Linked DNA regions of Homo sapiens. The protein of the gene in region 2 purifies or fractionates together with the protein of the main gene of each other region. This does not show direct contact. Each region holds a gene or a part of one and is shown on either strand. Other genes may lie near its edges.

Region 1 (5,035 bases), on a different chromosome or scaffold from region 2:
TTCCCTGTAAGGACTAAATCCCAACATTGGGCATATGCGTTACACTAGTAGCTATGCCTTCAACTATCTCACTTCTTTAACAATGCAAAAAATTCACCTTGCCAGAGAATAAATTTGGATTAACAAACCATTCCAAAGCCTTTAACATTATCGATAGGATGATATACAAAAATATAGTGCTGATATAGAAAATCAGAGTAATGCCAAATAGCACCTTAAAAATTTCTAATTTCCAATATTACCTATTAACATTCCTTTCATATACTCTTTGTAAGATTCCTTTGTTACCCATCATTGTGACTGTCCCAAATGTGTATCATTCCTCTCATGCTTTTCTACTACAACCCCAATGCTTATCATTTTTTCACCAAATAACCCTGTATCCTGCTTCACAGAGAAAAGAGAGACCCAAAAGCAAATTTCCCTAATTTCTCTACCCTCTCTCTCAAATGTATCTACACTTCTAATTCTCCCATTTTTGGTTTCTAGAACATGATTGTCCTACATCTTATGCTATTTCCAATTTGTCTGAGGCCCTCTCTAATTTCTCTCATTATCTCCCCCAACTACCCCCCTTCCCACCGCTCCCACACACACACGGCACACATGTATGCCTAGGATTCTGTCCTTGGTCCATTTTATTCATTTAATCTATGCTTTCTCCTTAGGTGATTTCATCTATCCTAAGCTTCAGCTGCTACTTTTATGCCACAATACCCAAAGCTCTCCCTGTGCTTCAATTTTCTATTTTTTTTTTTTTACTCTGATCCATGGTTCCAACCAAATATGAGACATGTCCCTCTCCCTCAATGTCTTGCAAGAATCTCAAACTTCATTTATTGAAAGATAAATTCTTTATCTTCTTCCCTACTCCAACTTTTTCTTCTTCTTGAATTCTCCATCTTGGTTAACATTTTCCAATCTAGAAATCTCAGTCACTACTGACAACTCATTCTCTCCTATCTCCAATTACCAAGCTAACATAATGACCATCGACTATACTTCAGAAATGTCTAGCCAGCTCATCCCTTTCTGTTCTGTTCCACAGTTCAGAACCTTCTCAGCCTCGCCTAGATTATTACAATAGATCTCCATAAATCTGTCTATACAACTCCATTTATTTTATACTGCCATTTGAATATATCTTGATCAGAACATCTATATATTAAAAAAAGAAACACATTCCAAACCCATAGAGAATAAACTTAAAAAGGCACAATCGTATTTTAATGTAGCACCTCAGCTTCTTTTCCTGATATTCAATTTCATACATACCCAATATTCCAAACATAAGACACTTCTTTTATTACCTAGACTGTCCAACCCCGTGACATTGGACATGTTACCTCTTCTTGCTTACATGTGTCTCCTTCATTAAATGAATACTTAAAGAGCGGGAATTGCTCACATACCCACATTTGTTCCTCAGCTGGCAGTTGCTGGCACATAGCAGTAGAAGCTGAAAGATACATCTCAATAGATACTAAGCCAAGACACATTTTCTTTATCACATACTAATTTAATAATATATAATTAATTTTATTCTTTGTTTTTTCTTTTAGTTACTTCAGACAAGTTTTCAGATTCAAGGTATTTTTTATTTATTATTAAAACAATATAATAGGGGAGGGATGGGGACAAGGGTTGAAAGCTACCTATTGGGTATGATGTTTACACAATTGAGAATTGTTGGATGAGAGGATCATTAGAAGTCCAAACTTTAGCATCACACAATATACCCATGTAACAAGCCTGCACATGTACCGCCTGCATCTAAAAACACATCACCACATGAAACTAATACTGAAGAAATGCTAAAAATGGTACCTTGGCAAAGGTGTAAATTCACTAATTATGCCTTCTGCTCCAAGTGTGACTCCCTGGACAATAAATGTACTTCCCATTCCTTTCCACAGGGCTCTAGGTCCCTAAATTGAACAAAATTCATGTTATTTCTGTTAATACCTACATCTGAAACACAAAAGATCTTAATAAAACTTGATATTGTGTAGACATTTTCCAATAAAACATTATTCTAATAGAAATATTAGTAGAGAACTACAATTAATTTTATATCATTTTAAAGTTATACTTAGGCCAAGAAGAACATTCCTATTAATTAAAACCCCTAATGATTAACTAATTTATTAAATATCCCTAATATCTATATATTCAACTCCCTACTAGTCCTGTCCTGTGGATGACACAAGGTAACTTGAAACTTACATATCCACAACTTAACCCAATCATACTCACTCATACCACACCAATTCTTTCCTTCTCTGCTGTATTTCCTATTTCCCTAGATAGCAGCTTCATCATCCTAGTGTCCAAACAATATATCTAGAAAACATTTTTATCTCACTCTTCCTATCTAATCAGTCCCCAGGTTCTACAAATTCTACTCCCTTAGTATCTTACAAATCCATGCTCTTCTCCATACTTAACACTATTACTTTATATCAATTTGACTACAAGTTTCACTGTCTCTGGTTTTGCCCCTTTGCATGATACCATCAGTAATACTCCTATTATTTATCTATATTATCTATATTATTAATAGATATACATGATAGAATTAAAAAGAAGCAATAGGGTATCAGCTGAAAAGTCTGTCTCCTTTTCATCCCAGTCCTCAGCAGCAGTTTTAAAATTTATCGGGATAATCCATGCATATACAAGTATATCTGTGTGTGTATGTTATAGAAATATTTTTGTTTTGCTTATTTTTAACAGGTAGTATTATCTTGAAACATAAAAAATATCCTGGAGATCATTCCACATTAGTATACACAGAGCTACCCTCTTATTTTTAAAGGTTACAAGGTGTTTCACCATAATATACCATAATTATTTCACTGGTACCCTAGTGATGGACATTTAATCATTTCCAGTCTATTATATGCAATGTCATAGGACATCCTTGTATATATATTTTTGCATATATATGTGCACATCTATGTGGGATAAGTTCCTGGAAGTGAAAGAACATGTACATTTTAAATTTTAATAGATATTGCCAAACAATCCAAAGGTCTTCAAGATATTTTGGTCATGGCTAAAACACCTTCAACAGTACTCTTGTAGCTTTTAAGATCTAGTAGTGTGCAGTTCTTAGAAGGTGCTTTAGAATCTGGATCCTGCTTACTTCTCTGGCTACTTTTTCATCTTTCTCTTACTCTTCAACCCCCACTTCAAGCTCCCATTGTACTCCATTAAATCCATTCCCAAACATTATGATCTCTCTTTGTCTTCTGCCTTCACACGTCTACTTTAAAAACCTTTTCTCTATCCTCATCATGAAGAGTCAGACTTCTCAACAAGAAGCACACAATTCGGGCCTTTCTTTTCCCAAAGTTTTTCCCAGCCATACACTGTGCCCAAGCCCAGTTTTGATAAGGTACTTCTCTTTTGTATTCTGACAGCATTCTGTACTTCTAATATTGCCTTTATCTTACTGCAGCACAATCTTCAAAGATTTTGTCTCCATGAATAAATATGAGCCTCTTGATAGCAGAGACATCATCTTAGCACAGCTCTTTGTGGTTTTGCTAAATTAAATTGTACTTTTGCTAAATTACATTTTGAAAGATTCAAAAACATATCGTTGTGCTACTTTAGTTTTACTACAACAGTTAAGATGTTTTATTGACCAAACTGAAAGTAATTATTCTTGCTTTAATGATTACTAAACCCAAATGACACTTATATAAACCTTTAATAGAATCCAGACAAAATTCTCACCTGAGTTTTGTTGAAACTGTACATAATATTGATGACTGTAAATGGAGTGAGATGGTAATGCTGAGCATGGTAATTAACCTGTAAAAAAGATATTTCATTATTTTTTTCTGTTAATGTTTTGTCAAGAAATAACAGAGCCATGAAAGAAATATGGTGGAATTGCAGTATAAACAAAAGTTAATTCCAAAGTCAACATAAATTACACATAAGCAAAATTACTCTTAAAAGTGCTTTAAATAACCTATTAAAAGTACAGTATGTATGGTTATATAAATACAATCTGAAGACCAATGCATAATACACACAGTACTGTAGACTATATAATAAAGAGGGTCTTATTTGATATTTGGTTTGCCTTAAACAACTGAATTACATCTCCCAACTCATGTTCATTTTAGGCAAGCATTTTTCAAACTGTACTTGGCAACTGACTGGTATATGAAATCAACTGGGGGAGTGTCAAAACAATATTTATTATGTGAAACAATAAAATATTAGAATGTATTACATTCTAATGGTATTATTTCATAAAACATTTAAAAATAATATATTTGTTACTTATATGTAATGTATCCATTGGATCTCCATGTTAATATTACTACAATGTAAAATATATATCTGAAATACACTGTTCTGTGGCACATACAGTCAATGCTACTTTAATGGTATTTCTGTATACATACTTTTCAGTGCTAAGCATGAACAGATTAATTTATAATGATTTATACTGTTTTGAACTCTAACAGCTAACAAATACAGGAAGCATTACTTTACAGAGAAAGTGGGTTATAACAGGACGGGCGCAGTGGCTCACACCTGTAATCCCACCACTTTGGGAGGCTGAGGCGGGCGGATCATGAGGTCAGGAGATCGAGACCATCCTGGCTAACACGATGAAACCCCGTCTCTACTAAAAATACAAAAAATTAGCTGGGCACGGTGGCGGGCTCCTGTAGTCCCAGCTACTCGGGAGGCTGAGGCAGGAGAATGGCGTGAACCCAGGAGGCGGAGTTTGCAGTGAGCCGAGATCATGCCACTGCACTCCAGTTTGGGCAACAGAGCGAGACTCCGTCTCAAACAAACAAAAAAAAAAAGTGGGTTATAACAGAGTTTGCAAGTGGGGTCCACTGACTCCTGAGGGCCCCATTACCCTTTCAGGGGCTTGACAAGTTCAAAATTATTTTCCTAGTGATTACTAAGATATAATTTCCTTTTTTCACTGTCTTGACATTTTCACTAATGGTACAAAAGCAATGGTAGGTAAAACTCCCAGCTCATTAGCACAAATTGA
Region 2 (5,035 bases):
TAATAATTATTTCCAATTTTTCCTGAATTCCCTCTGCCCCCAAAGACATTCTTTCCTTATGACCTTCCCAGAACCCAAGCTGCCTTCCTATACCTCTTGGTTACAGTCAAGGGTTATAAAAAAATGTTTAACAACTGGCATGGTATAAACACCAAACCAAGAGATTGACACCAATTTATAACTGTATGGCTGTAATGGAACAGGCTCACTAAATATCAGCCTTAGTTATACTGCTGCTAAAGAAGCAGCCTTAGAATGCTTCTTGTAAGCAGTCTGCTATACTTTTTTTCCATGCTAGGCCTGTTCTCAAAGATCTTTGGTTATTTCTTACCTGCCACTTCACAGAAAAGGGATAGCAGGGTTCATGAAAGAAACCACATAAATTGGATTCCAAAGATGAGTTTAACGTCACATCTTATTAAATATTTAATTTCTCTACTTTTATTCCTTAAAAGGAAGAATTAAGGAGAAGTATTAGAACATACTACTGCTTTCTTTCTCTTACACCGTCTCCAGATAATTAAGCTAAGTTAGTTTTTTTTTTAAAAGTCAGCTTTTTATTAGAGCTTTGTTATTCAATTATATCCACACAGGTATGCAAGTTCTTTCTCCTTTCTATCAAACAGACAGTTAATACACAGGCAAATGGATAAATTTGGGGATATATTAAGGATACTGTAAACTGTTAGCAAAAGAAATAAATGTCTGACATTCAGAGAGGAAACAAGAGAAAGGGAATATAGAAATTCACACCCTAAAAAAAAGAGGTGGTTCATTTTAAAATGAACTTATAAAGTTATATATAATAACATCAACTATATCTGTGTTGTTTTTAAAGATATTCTTACCCAATTTTGGAAAAACTATTAGGTATTCAGCATTGCACTGAGGACATGCCACTCTGGCTGTACTGTTTCCTCTTTGCTTTTCATCCACCCAGCGTTGTAGACAGGCCTGGTGAACCCATTTTGTAGATCCTCTGCACCTGCATGGTCTCACCCATTCAGCTGTTCTATCATCTTCATCAGTAGCAAAACAAACCCAGCAACTTCTGTAAATTAAAAGAGAAAAGGATGACATTTATATCTTTAGGACTCCAGCCTCCTCTATACTGCAGCTCTTACTTAATGGGATGAGCCTGCTATGTTATATTACAGAATCTCTGTCCTATATTAAAAGACTAAGGAGACAAAACAACCAATACATTCCCACTAGAGCAGTTTCTACTTTTTCTGTTTTTCCTTGTCTTCCTCTACAGAACTTATGTTTTCTGAACTTTGTTTTTATGTAATCTCCTCTATCTTTTCAGTAATTCTTCACCTTCTCTAATGAACCAGAGTGCAAGGAGACAAACCTCAAGTTGTTTTTGTTATAAGACCTAATAATTCTTTGAGGAATAGTAAGCACAGTAATATATTAAATTCAGTGTTCTCCCCAGTTCACCACCACCAATCCCTTGAACTTGGAAAAACAAAGTATTACACGAGTGATTTCACATACAGTCTCATTCCATTTTTCAGCTGAGGAAAAAAAAACCCATTTTTCTTTCCGGTAAAGTATAAACATGAGAGAAAACAATATTACATTTTCAAAAAAGCACAAAGGAGATAAATATATCAAGATTTTTTTTTTTAGAATAGCAATATGATAAATTTGGGCGTGTATGCTTGAAATCTGAAATCTAGAAGTATCAAGTCTGGGGTGCTTATATTAATAAAAATAAAATTCTATTGAGATCGGTAATTTTAAAACATTTTCCCACTTTGCTTTTAAGGGTACTTCATGAATTGTAATTTTTTCTTGTGGAATTAGGTTGTAATTCCTCAGTTTTTCTCCCAATTAACACAAGTTTTGACATCGATTTCCATCAGGGCAAATACAGTTCAATTCAATGAGACCCTTCGCTCCTCCCCTCCATTAGAACTTGTACAAGTGGAAACAACTGCTAATTAAAGCATGTTACCTACTGTGCACTTTTTAATTAATTGGATAAGTGGCTTCTGTCAGAACAACTAGCTTAACTATGCTCAGTGGGAAAGACTATATACTCAGGTATTATAGATGGGTGAGGTTCTCCAGTCCTTGTGGAACAACATGAATTTCAATTGTGTGCTCCAATTACAATTTTTCAATTAGAACAGAAAAAAAGTTGAACTGAATCCAGGGCATCAATATCCAAAATAGTTGTTTTATTCAGCTTTCAAATTCAGTCAGGTTTCATAAGATCTAAGTAAAATTAGAACGTAGGTAGCATTTGTTTAGCATTCTGACCCTTTTGACCCACTTTAGCTAAGCTGTCTGGGCCTTCACATTGTCTTATGGTTGTCCAAAAATACTTTGTTCTTTTTTAAAAAATTTTATCGTCAAATAGACATAGCATAAAATCTACCATTTTAGCCATTTTTTAGGTGTATAATTCAGTGGCAGTAAGTATATTCATACTGTTGTGCAACCACCAAGACTACCCATAGTAGGACTGGGTTCTAACCTATGATTTTTGCATAAAATTTCAATTGGTAAGTATACTAGCACACAGGCTGGTTAAGATGTTGTTAGTATATATTTTTCCCCACAACTGAGGTAATTTTGTGGACATATTTGTATACATCTAGGAAATGGAATGTATCATTTTAGCAACAAAATACTGGCAGAATATTTAGAGACTCTTTAGTCTCATACTTTCTTAACACAAACGTAAATAAGAATAGCTACATCAGCATAATTAATCAGTATTATGGTGAATCACATTTTAAATTAATCCAATTTCAGTCATCAGAAAAATAAAATACAATGTTAGGACTAGGTTGAACCAACTGAAATAGTCTACATTAATCTGTTTCTGACTTACAGAAAAGATAGGTCAAATTTCATATTTTGATCTAATGAGAATACTTGTGTAGCTATTATATTCCTTATAAATTCTAGATAAGGTTTATTTTTCCCAAACATTTTATTATGAAAAATTTCAAACTTTCCAAAAAAAGTTAAAAACTGTTCAGTGACTACCCATATACCCAACATTTAGATTCTATAATTCTTATTCTGCTATATTTGCTTTCTCACACATCCATTCATTATTCTTATTTTTTGCTGCATTTCAAAGTTGCAGGCATCAGTATATTTCAGTCCTAAATACTTGTACAGATTTACTTTTTAGAACTGACATTTAAAGCATGCACTTGGCCGGGTGCCGTGGCTTAAGCCTGTAATCCCAGCACTTTGGGAGGCTGAAGCGGGCGGATCACAAGGTCAGGAGATTGAGACCATCCTGGCTAACACGGTGAAACCCTGTCTCTACTAAAAATACAAAAAAATTAGTTGGGCATGGTGGCGGGTGTCTGCAGTCCCAGCTACTCAGGAGGCTGAGACAGGAGAATGGCGTGAACCCGGGAGGCGGAGCTTGCAGTGAGCCAAGATCGCGCCACTGCACTCCAGCCTGGGCAACAGAGCAAGACTCCGTCTCAAAAAAAAAAAAAAACAAAAAACAAACAACGCACGCACTTATGCACTTTCAGTTTTTTTTCTAATTAATTTCACAACTATGGTAAATAAGATAGCTGAATGATGATTCAGAGTGCGTACTTATCAGGAGTTAGGCTTTCAGTTGAAATAGCAGTATTAGAGGCATGTGAACCAGAGCAACTCCGTCTTGATTGAATAGGAGCTGGGTAAAATGAGGCTGAAACCTACTGGGCTGCATTCCCAGATGGTTAAGGCATTCTAAGTCACAAGATGATATATGAGGTCAGCACAAAATACAGGTCATAAAGATACTGCTGATAAAACAGGTTGCAGTAAAGCCAGCTAAAACCCACCATAACCAAGATGCTCACGAGTGACCCCTGGTCGTCCTCACTGCTACACTCCCACCAGCACCATGACAGTTTACAAATGCCACGGCAACGTCACGAAGTTACCCTATATGATCTAGAAAGGGGAAGCATAGGCTGGGCGCGGTGGCTCATGCCTATAATCCCAGCACTTTGGGAGGCTGAGGAGGGCGGATTATGAGGTCAGGAGATCGAGACCATCCTGGCTAATATGGTGAAACTCCGTCTCTACTAAAAATACAAAAAAATTAGCCAGGCGTGGTGGCAGGTGCCTGTAGTCCCAGCTACTCGGGAGGCTGAGGCAGGAGAATGGTGTGAACCCAGGAGGCAGAGCTTGCAGTAAGCTGAGATCGTGCCACTGCACTCCAGCCTGGGTGACAGAGTGAGACTCCATCTCAAAAAAAAAAAAAAGGGGGGAAGCATAAATAATCCTCTCCTTGTTTAGCATATCATCAAGAAATAACCATAAAAATGGGCAACCAGCAGCCCAAAGTCTTGCTCTGTTGCCCAGGCTGGAGTGCAGTGGTGGTCTCGGCTCACTGCAACCTCCGCCTCCCGGTTCAAGCGATTCTCATGCCTCCGCCTCCCAAGTAGTAGGATTACAGGGTGCCCGCCACCATGCCCAGCTAGTTTTTGTATTTTTAGTAGAGATAGGGTTTCACCATGCTGGCTAGGCTGGTCTTGAACTCCTTACCTCAAGTGATCTGCCCACCTCAGGCTCCCAAATGCTGGGATTACAGGCATGACCCACTGCGCCTGGCCACACACAGCTAATTAAAAAAAAATTTTTTTTTTAGAGACAGGATCTCCTTATGTTGCCTAGACCAGTCTCAAACTCCTGGGCTCAAGCAATTCTCCTGCCTTGGATTCCCAAAGTTTTGGGCGTGAGCCACTGTGCCTGGCCAAATATGTTAAGTTCTAAAGAATTTATTAACTGATTTGCTATCTTACTAGTTGTTTAAATTTAATCTACCTAGTATGGAAAGAATAGCAGTCTATGAAATGAGGACTGGGCAAAGGGGAAATTAAAGCATGTAAAAATGGTCACACAAATGTCTTTAGGCCGATATCAGCATATAAGAGTGTGACTAGTCTTAAGGGCTAAAAAAAAGGAGGGGAGGGCACGTGCGTGCATGCACGCGCACACACACACACACACACACACACACACACACACACAGATGTTTTCTTTCCTTATTTTATGA
Region 3 (5,035 bases), about 17 Mb from region 2:
ACCCCTAACATTATGAAGACACACCAGAGGCCAGGAACACCTGCCTTCATTTCCAGGGCCTAGGTTGCCTAGACATGCAACTTTGCTTTGCTTTCAGCATTCTGAGGGCTACAATATAAAGGTAACAAACAGACTATGTGACCAAAACAGATCTCCAAATGATTCGATGTCTATACTCTTATAATGTGTAACATCCAAAGAGCCCAATCCAGAGAAAGAAATGATGTAACTATACAGACACAAACCACATCCAAAACACCTGTATTCACTTGGCACTACAGCCAAATATTCATGAGCTACCAATGACCATCTAAAGAAAAAAACAGGCCTGGCGCAGTGGCTGACACCAGTAATCCCTGCACTTTGGGAGGCCAAGGCGGGAGGACCACTTGAGCCCAGGAATTCAACAGCCTGGGCAACACGGTGAGACCCCTGTCTGTCTGTACAAAATTTTCCTAGCTTGGTATGATGGTGCACACCTACCCAACTACCAGGGAAGTGGGGGGTGAGTGGAAGGATCTCAAGCCCAGGTGGCTGAGGGCACAGTGAGCTGTGATTGCACCAGTGAACTACAGCCTAGGCAACAAAGCTCAAAAAAAAAAAAAGAAAGAAAAATACCTCACTAATGACCATCTTGTACCCTACAAATAAGAGCCTCAGACAGCTGGATAGACATTCCTATTATTGGCCAGGCGCAGTGGCTCACGCCTGTAATCCCAGCACTTTGGGAGGCCGAGGCAGGCGGACCACAAGGTCAGGAAATCGAGACCATCCTGGCTAACACGGTGAAACCCCGTCTCTACTAAAAATACAAAAAATTAGCCGGGCGTGGTGGTGGGCACCTATAGTCCCAGCTACTCGGGAGGCTAAGGCAGGAGAAAGGCGTGAACCCGGGAGGCGGAGGTTGCAGTGAGTGGAGATCTTGCCACTGCACTCCAGCCTGGGCTACTGAGCGAGACTCCGCCTCAAAAAAAAAAAAAAGAAAGAAAGAAAGAAATTCCCATTATTGGCCGGGCTGGGTGGCTCATGCCTGTAATCCCAGCACTTTGGGAGGATCACAAGGTCAGGAGTTCAAGACCAGCCTGGCCAAGATGGTGAAACCCCGTCTCTACTAAAACTACAAAAATTAGCCAGGCACGGTGGCAGGCGCCTGTAATCCCAGCTACTCGGGGTGCTAAGGCAGGAGAATCACTTGAATCCGGGTGGCAGAGGTTGCAGTGAGCAGAGCAGAGATCGCACCACTGCACTCCAGCCAGGGTAACAAAGTGAGACTCTGTCTCCAAAAAAAAAAAAAAAAAAAAATTCCTATTATTTAACAGTAAGAGTTAAACCATGAAACTGTGATAAGGAGTAGAAAAAATAAACTCAGTTTCTCCCTCTATACTCTCATAAGGCCTAGGGAGAATTTCCCACACATCAAGCAAACGATTCTGCAGCAGACTCCAGCTAGATGTTCTCTAATTCAATTCTGATACTATCTACCTGGAGAGAGAGCATCGGATCACACAGGTTCAGGGCTCAGTTTCATAAAACTGCCCCGCCCTCATTTTCAATGCTAACTGAAAGCTCCAGGTTCTTTTGCCTCTGCTTCTTACAGACTGGTTATAAACTGGGGTTCCCACAACCCCCTGGGGTTCAAGTAATTTCCTAGGGTGGCACACAGAACTCAGGGACTAACACATTTACCAGTTATATAGGATATTTTAAAGGATATAAATGAACAGCCAGATGAAAAGATACTTATATATCTTTTCCTTTATAGGTGAGGTCTTGAAGGGTCCCAAGCACAGGAGCTTCCATCCCTGTGGAGCTGGGGTGCCCCACCCTCCCATGACATGAATGTATTATTGTTTACCTTCCTGAAGGCCCCCTGGACTCAGTCCTTTGGGTTTTTACAGAGACTTCATTACAAAGGAGACTTCATTACAAAGGCACGATTAATTAAATCACTGGCCACTGGCTCAACCTTTAGCTACTATGCCCTCCCCAAGGCAGAAGGTTTGTTCCCTAGCAACCAGCACCCCCTACCATGTGGCCATCTAGGGACTATCCAAAAATCACCTCATTAACATAAGTTCAGATGTGGTTGAAAGAGGCCTGTTAAAAATAACAACATAGCCCAGGGCGCAGTGGCTCGTTCCTGTTACCCCGGCACTTTGGGAGCCAAGGCAAGTGGATCACCTGAGGTCAGGGGTTGGAGACCCACCTGGCCAACACGGTGAAACCTCATTTCTACTAAAAATACAAAAATTAGTCGGGCTTGGTGGCAGGCACCTCCAAACCCAGCTACTAAGTAGGCTGAGGCACGAGAACTGCTTGAACCCGAGAGGCGGAGGTTGAGGTTGCAGTGAGCAGAGATGGTGCCACTGTACTCCATCCAGCCTGGATGACAGTGAGATTTCATTAAAAAAAAAAAAAAAAAAAAAAACCCACAAAAGACTGTCTTTCACTTTTATGCTCTGGAGCTGTTTCAGGAACCGAGGACAAATGGCCAAATATCTCAACAAAATACACTCTTACGGCTCTAGTCACTTGGGAAATTGCAAGGGTTATAGAAGCTGTGAGCCAGGAACTTGACAAAAACCAAAATATATACACCATAGTATCATAGGCCACCCCCTGGTTTCAAACAGGGATCCCTTACAGCAAAAAGGTCCATATATCTGTCAAGGATGTTTACACTTGTTGCATTTATATAACAGACATATCTACAAGAGTACAAACACAAATATGCCTATCATCTGGAGAAGCTACTGTGGGATAGGGATAGGTTTAAAGAAGCAACTAGGATGGGCGCAGTGGCTCACACCTGTAATCTCAGCACTTTGGGAGGCTGAGGCGGGCGGATTACCAGAGGTCAGGAGTTTGAGACCAGCCTGGCCAACACGGCGAAACCTCATCTCTACTAAAAATACAAAAATTAGCCGAGTGTGGTAGTGGGCACCTATAATCCCAGCTACTCAGGAGACTGAGGCACAAGAATGGCTTGAACCCAGGAGGTGGAGGTTGCAGTGAGCCGAGATCACGCCACTGCACTCCAGCCTGGATGACTCCGTCTCAAAACAAAACAAAACAAAACAAAAAAAACCTACTCGGTCCTATGAAGAGAAAAAAAAATAGCTCAGCAGTATGAGGAATGTGAGGTATGCAAAGTTTATCAGGCCCAGAGAGACATGAGAATGAGACTTTAGTCACAGGACACACCCCCATGCCTAGGGGAAATTGTTTAAAAACACTTTGTTCTTTTTTTCCTTCCTTGTAGTTTCCAGGCTCGCTGGCAAATATCTAAAGTGTTACTGCACAATGTGACCCTCACCCATTATCTTCATGTTCCTGGAATCTGTGATACAAAGAACAATGTATAGCCAATCACTAATCAATGTTATTTCTGTAAACCAAAGAGAATTCCTGCCAAACAACTTTGTATCAGCCCACATCCTGTCCCGAATTTTTGGCCTTTAAAAACCTGTTTGTAACAAGGGCCAAATGGAGCTCAAATCCACTTGGATCTGAGTCTGCTGGGCAGCTGTCCTCATTATGGTGCAAATAAATTCTTTAAAATTGTATTTTGTGCCTTAGTTTCTTCCTTTAGGTTGACAGAAGCCATTAGAAACATCTTTATCATCTTGTACCAGCTTTCTTTTCCCTTGATCTACTGTTATTTGTACCTTGTGCAGAACTATTCAGGATGGAAATCAGCTGATAGTGAGATCCAGTTCCTCCTCAGGCCAGTCACTTTCCATAGGTATTATATCCTGAGGAGGCTTCAACTCAATTTCACAATACATATAATCATCAATCAGTATTATAAGACTTATTTACACAAGGGAGTTTAATCTGCCAACAATATTACCATATGGCAGTATGAGCATGGTACAAAAAAAATCAGTTTCGTTACAGATCAGTAAGAATTAGAGATATTTGCTTTGCCTTTCCAACAGAAATCTACCCTTCCCCATTTGTCAGCCTTTATCTTGATTAATAAGCCTGACTACTGCCCCAGGCAATTTCAGATCACATTTCTCAATGTAATCTCTAACTTCTGACTTTTTAAATTTCTCCAAACTGGGCAAAATACAGCAAATACAGGTCTTAGGGGTACTTTTTACCCTTGCAAGGTGGCTTTGAGGCTGGTGGCCAAGGCTTAAACCAAATGAAACCTGAGCTTGGTCTAGCATCAAGGTACAATCCAGCACTCTTTCACTTTGATTTTAGCTATCACAAATAACAATAATCAAGGGATTGTATATTTTGTTTGTTTCTTATTGTTTGCGTTTCCTTATGCACCCAGTGAACCAACTCCCTTGGAGTTGGATCTATCTTTGAATTCCACTGGTAATTTTTAAGTACCTGAGCACAGCACAGTTGTGGCTCCATAGCAGGGGTGACCATCTGACCACCCAGGAGTCAAAAGTTCCTCATTTCCCATCCATTTATCCTTTTTCTTCCTAAACCATGCTTCGATGAGCCACTCTAGCTAGAGCCACTCTAGCAAATCCCAATCCTGACATCAATTCTGAGGATACAGAAAAAAACCAACTCAGTTTCTCCTACTATTCTCTCACAACACAGAATGCTTCTGTGACCACATGTGTGAGGGCTTTCCTCACACACCAAGCAAGCAATAATTTCTGCAGCAGACACTGGCTAAATGTCCTCTAATTCTACCTGGAGACATCAGATGCCACAGGTTAAGGGCTTAGTCCCACAAGACTGCCCTCCTCCCACTTCAGATGCCAACTGCAAGCCCCAGGTTGTTTTAACTCTGCTTCTGACCTGGCACCTCTAAACAGAGGTTCCCACAAGCCCCTTCTTGGGTTCAATTAATCTCCTAGAGCAGGTCACAGAACTCAAGAAACACTTTATTTACATTTACCAGTTTTAATAAAGGATATTACAAAGGATACAGATGAAGAGATGTACAGTGCAAAACATAGGAAGGGACACAGCTTCAATGCCCTCTCCAGACATGCCACCTTCCAGTAACCTCAGCTACCTAGCTCACTGACCTCTGTCCTTGTGGGTTTTCATGAGG
Region 4 (5,035 bases), on a different chromosome or scaffold from region 2:
TGGCTGCACCTTTTTTTTTTTTTTTTTTTGAGACAGGGTCTCACTTTCTCGCCCAGACTGGAGTGCTGTGGCGCTATCTTGGCTTACCGCAACCTCTGCCTCCCAGGCTCAAGGCGTTCTCCTGCTTCAGCATCCTGAGTAGCTGGGATTACAGGTGCCCGCCACTACTGCCCGGCTACTTTTTGTATTTTTAGTAGAGGCGAGGGTTTCCTTATATTGGTCAGGCTGGTCTCGAACTCCTGACCTCAAATGATCCACCCACCTCGGCCTCCCAAAGTGCTGGGATTACAGGCGTGAGCTGCTGCGCCCAGCCGTGGCTGCACCATTTCACATCCCCTCCAGGGTTCAGGTTTCTGCACATCCTTATCAACACTTGTTGTTATCTTTTTTTTTTAAGCGCTAAATCATTCTGGAATTCTTTATTTGAAAAACAGCACTTTTTGACACCTATGCCATTTCCTTCTCTTATGGACAACTTTTTTCATAGTTTGATGTCCCTCTCTCTTTTTTTTCTCCATGAGCACTGCTGTCTACATTTTAGCATTTATTGACTATAATTTAATTCCTGCTTATGCATTGTTTTCTTGTGTTCTTAGATAAATTTATGTTTTTCTCTTTTTTTGTATAGATTATGAGCTGCTGCTTTTTTTTAACTTAACAAAATTGAGGTGAAATTTGCAGAACATAAAATTAGCCTTTTTTTTTTTTTTTTTTTTTTGAGATGGAGTTTTGCTCTTGTTGCCCAGGCTGGAGTGCAATGGCGCGATCTCGGCTCACAGCAACCTCCACCTCCCGGGTTCAAGTGATTCTCCTGCCTCAGCCTCTCAAGTAGCTGGGATTACAAGCATGTGCCATGCCTGGCTAATTTTGTATTTTTAGTAGAGACAGGGTTTCTCCATGTTGGTCAGGCTAGTCTCAAACTCATGACCTCAGGTGATCCGTCCACCTCGACCTCCCAAAGTGCTGGGATTACAGGTGTGAGCCACTGTGCCCAGCCAAAATTAGCCCTTTTATAAAATGTATAATTCAGTGTCATTTAGTGCATTCATAATGACATCTCTGTCTAGGTCCAAAACAATTTCATCACGAAAGAAAACTACTATTGAGCTGTCACTCCCTCTTCTTTCTTTTCCATTTAATGGCTGAGTAATATTCTGTTATATGTATAAACCACATTGGTTTATTCAATCACCTATTGATGAGCAATTGGGTTGTTTCTGCCTTTTAGCTGTTGTGAATAGTGCTGCTGTGAATATTGGTGTACAAGTATTTGAGTACCTGTTATCAGTTATTTTGGTATATACCTAGGAGTAAAATTACTGGGTTCTATGGTAATTTTGTTTAACTTTTTGAGCAACCACTTTTCCACAGCAGCTACACCATTTTAAAATTCCCACCAGCAATGTTTGAAGGGTGCAGTTTTTCTGTATCTTTGTCAACATTTGTTATTATCTGTTTTTGATTATAGTCATCCTAATGGGTGTGAAGTTTTGTTTTGCATTTCCCTAATGACTAATGGTGTTGAACATCTTTTCATGTGTTTGTTGGGGTTGTCTTATTGTTGAGGTTGTAAGAGTTCTTTTTTTTCTTTTTTTTTTTTTTTTTTTGAGATGGAGTCTCGCTCTGTTGCCCAGGTGGCCAGGCTGGTCTTGAACTCCTGACCTCAGGTGATCCGCCTGCCTTGGCCTCCCAAAGTGCTGGCATTATAGGCATGAGCCACCACACCCGGCCTTGTCTTTTTGCTTCCTTGTTAGTGTCCTTCAATACACAAAAGGTTTTACTTTTGGTTAAGGCTAATTTATCTTTTTTTTTCCTTTTATTGCTTTATGGTGTCATATCTAAGGCATTGACAAATCCAAAGCCGTGAAGATTTTTTTTTATTTTTTAATGTTTTTTCCCCTAATTATTTTATAGTTTTGGCTTGTATATTTAGGCTTTTGATCCATTTTGAGTACATCTTGGTATGGTATGAGGTAGGGGTTCATTTCATTTTTTTTGCACGTGCTTCTCCAGTTGACCTAGTACCATTTGTTGGAGAGACTGTTCTTTCCCCATTGAATAGTCTTGGCATTGTTGAAAATCAGTTGAGCAAAGATTTTGTTGTTGTTGTTGAGACAGGGTCTCACTCTGTCACCCAGGCTGGAGTGCAATGATGCAGTCTTGGGTCACTACAGCCTCCACCTCCTGAGTTCAAGCGATTCTTCTGCCTCATCCTCCCAAGTAGCTGAGACTACAGTCACCTGCCATCACGCCGGGCTATTTTTTTTGGTATTTTTTTTTAGTAGATACGGGGTTTTGCCATGTTGGCCAGGCTGGTCTTGAACTCCTGACCTCAGGTGATCCATCCACCTCGGCCTCCCAAAGTGCTGGGAATACAGGCATGAGCCACCATGCCTGGCCAGCCAAAGATTTATTATATGGGTTTATTTCTGGATTCTCAGTTCTATTCTGCTTTGATTACTGTAGCTTTGGAGTATATTTAAAATTTGAGAAGTGTAACTTTACCAGCATTGTTTTTCTTTTTCAAAATTGTTTTGGTTGTTTGGGGTCCCTTGTCATTCAATATGAATTTTATTTTATATTATTTTATTTTGAGAGGTAGTCTTACTCTGTCGCCCAGGCTGGAGTGCAGTGGCGTGATCTCGTTTCACTTGCAGCCTCTGCCTCCTGGGTTCAAGCGATCCAACCACCTCAGGCTGCAAGTAGCTGAGATTACAGGTGCCCACCACCATGCCTGGCTAATATTTGTTTTTTTAGTAGAGATGGGGTTTCACCACGTTGGCAAGATTGATCTCAAACTCCTAACCTCAGGTGATCTGCCCACCTTGGCCTCCCAAAATGCTGGGATTACAGGCGTGAGCCACTGTGTGGGCCCCGTATGAATTTTAGATTTGGCTTCTCCATTTCTGTAAACAAGACAGTTGGGATTTTGATGGGGATTGTGTTGCCTCTATAGGTTGCTTCAGGTTTTATTGGCATCTTAACCATTTTAAGTTAGAATTTTTGATGGGGAGGTTTTTTCTTTTAGCACTTTATCTTACTGCCTCTGGCTCCTATGGTTTCTTTTCTCTTTTCTTTCTTTGAAAACAAGTTTATTAAAGTAAAGGAATAAAAGAATGGCTACTCCATAGGCAGAGCTGCTGTGGCCCCTATGGTTTCTGATGAGAAGTCTGTTGTATCTGTTGTTAGTCTTACTGAGGATCCCTTGTTCATGACTCTTAGCTTCTCTCTTGCTGCTTTTAGCATTTGTCTTTGTCTTTCAACAGTTTGATTATAATTTATCTCAATGTGTGTATTTCTTTGTGTTTATCCTGCTTTGAGTTCATCGAGCTTCTTGGATGTGTAGATTCATATCACTTTTTCATGCTTTTATGGAAGAAGTGGGGATTTTCACAGACGATAATTCTGCCTTATCAGATATCTGAATCTCTCTCTTAGTGATCTAGAAAGCACTGGACCTATAGTTTTATAACCAAGAAAAAATTCCTTCCTAAGGACTGTTAGGTCTGCAGTATTTTAGAAAGTTTGGATTTTGGGTATTAAGTTCATATAAGAACACTCTTTTAAGCCAAGTGTGGTGGCCTGTGCCTGTAGTCCCTTTTACTTGGGAGACCTGGTGGCAAGGCTGCTTGAGCCCAGGAGGTTGAGGGCTGTAGTTCACTGTGATTGTGCTGTGAATAGCTGCTGCACTCCAGCCTAAGCAACATAGTGAGACCTGGTCTCTTAAGAACAAAAAACACCCCACATATTAACTACAAATTATGAAGTGGTTTAAACTTCATATTTATATTTTGTCATTAGGTAGAGGGTTTGAGCTATATGGTAGAAACATTGTAGTTTAGCTATTTTATTTTATTTTATTTTTGAGGCAGAGTTTCGCTCTCGTTGCCCAGGCTGGATTGCAATGGCGTGATCCTGGCTGACTGCAACTTCTGCCTCCTGAGTTCAAGTGATTCTACTGTCTCAGCTTCCCGAGTAGCTGGGATTACAGGCATGCGCCACCACGCCTGGCTAATTTTGTATTTTTAGTAGAGACAAGGTTTCTCCATGTTAGTCAGTCTGGTCTCAACCTCAGGTGATCTGCCCGCCTCACCCTCCCAAAGTGCTGGGATTACAGGCATGAGCCACTGGGCCCGGCGTAGTTTAGCTGTTTTAAATACCATAAGATTAACATTTCTAAGGACACTCTTAGAAATATTTTATTTAAATAAGTGAAGCAAATATATAAGGAAACCTTCTGTAAATCTAAAATTATTTCAAAATAAAAAGTAAAATATTGAGACATATATGTTTACTATATTAATATCAAAATAAAGAATTGAGAGGTCTGCCTTACACAATGAAAAATTAAAACTTAGAAGTTGAATAAGGGATCAGCTTTGGTTAATGTGGTATGAATGAACATTATTAACTCCTCAACCCCAACTGATGCTGATTATTAGGGAAGAGCTGAAAATACAACAAAACCTTTTCCATGAAAGGCCACATTTCAAAATATAAATTCAAAACACTAAAAATCCCAATACAGTGCAGTTTGGAAGAAACTAAAACTAAAAGATGACACTGAGACCAGGCACACAAATCTTTAGCTCGTAAATATAATACAGGTTATTGAATCAGCTTTGGGAGTTTGTGGAGAAAAAAATCTGAAGGCCTTGTAGTGCCAGTGGAGCCCGATTTTCAGAACAAGCTAGCTGTGATTTTTGCCACTTTAGAACTCTTGTAGCTACTCGACTTTCTGGGAAGAACCCAGACATGGGATGTTTAAATCACCAGGTGGGGGAAAAAGCACTGATAGAACCAATTGTTGAAGAAGCCAGTACCATTTATAGTAGTGAATCTAGATGAGAGGTAAAACATTGGGAGCCCACAGATGTGTTTCATTTAGTCTGTGTGTGTTGACACATACAGTATTAAAAATAAATGAATTAGTTGCCAATGTTTAAAAATTGGTAGATTTAGTTGAAAGGCCCAGATTTCTGGTTTTGCCTTAAAAAAATCAGAAAATCTGATAACCCTTAACCCATATTCCCAG

Evidence for each region. The genes of interacting proteins can lie anywhere in the genome.
Region 1: the proteins of MARCHF5 (region 2) and SLC25A46 purify together in Homo sapiens (affinity purification with mass spectrometry; 2 studies listed by BioGRID). This does not show direct contact.
Region 3: the proteins of MARCHF5 (region 2) and VDAC2 purify together in Homo sapiens (affinity purification with mass spectrometry, with the first as the bait; one study listed by BioGRID). This does not show direct contact.
Region 4: the proteins of MARCHF5 (region 2) and DNM1L purify together in Homo sapiens (affinity purification with western blotting, with the first as the bait; 3 studies listed by BioGRID). This does not show direct contact.

Annotation. Positions count from the first base shown.
Region 1 is NC_000005.10:110,745,056-110,750,090, reverse strand, and holds part of SLC25A46 (mitochondrial outer membrane protein SLC25A46), read right to left. Parts: intron 3,823-5,035; coding exon 3,745-3,822; intron 1,929-3,744; coding exon 1,828-1,928; intron 1-1,827. UniProt on the Homo sapiens protein: Transmembrane protein of the mitochondrial outer membrane that controls mitochondrial organization.
Region 2 is NC_000010.11:92,307,151-92,312,185, reverse strand, and holds part of MARCHF5 (E3 ubiquitin-protein ligase MARCHF5), read right to left. Parts: intron 1,052-5,035; coding exon 849-1,051; intron 1-848. UniProt on the Homo sapiens protein: Mitochondrial E3 ubiquitin-protein ligase that plays a crucial role in the control of mitochondrial morphology by acting as a positive regulator of mitochondrial fission and as an important regulator of immune response.
Region 3 is NC_000010.11:75,223,845-75,228,879, reverse strand, and holds part of VDAC2 (non-selective voltage-gated ion channel VDAC2), read right to left. Parts: intron 1-5,035. UniProt on the Homo sapiens protein: Non-selective voltage-gated ion channel that mediates the transport of anions and cations through the mitochondrion outer membrane and plasma membrane.
Region 4 is NC_000012.12:32,685,350-32,690,384, forward strand, and holds part of DNM1L (dynamin-1-like protein), read left to right. Parts: intron 1-5,035. UniProt on the Homo sapiens protein: Functions in mitochondrial and peroxisomal division.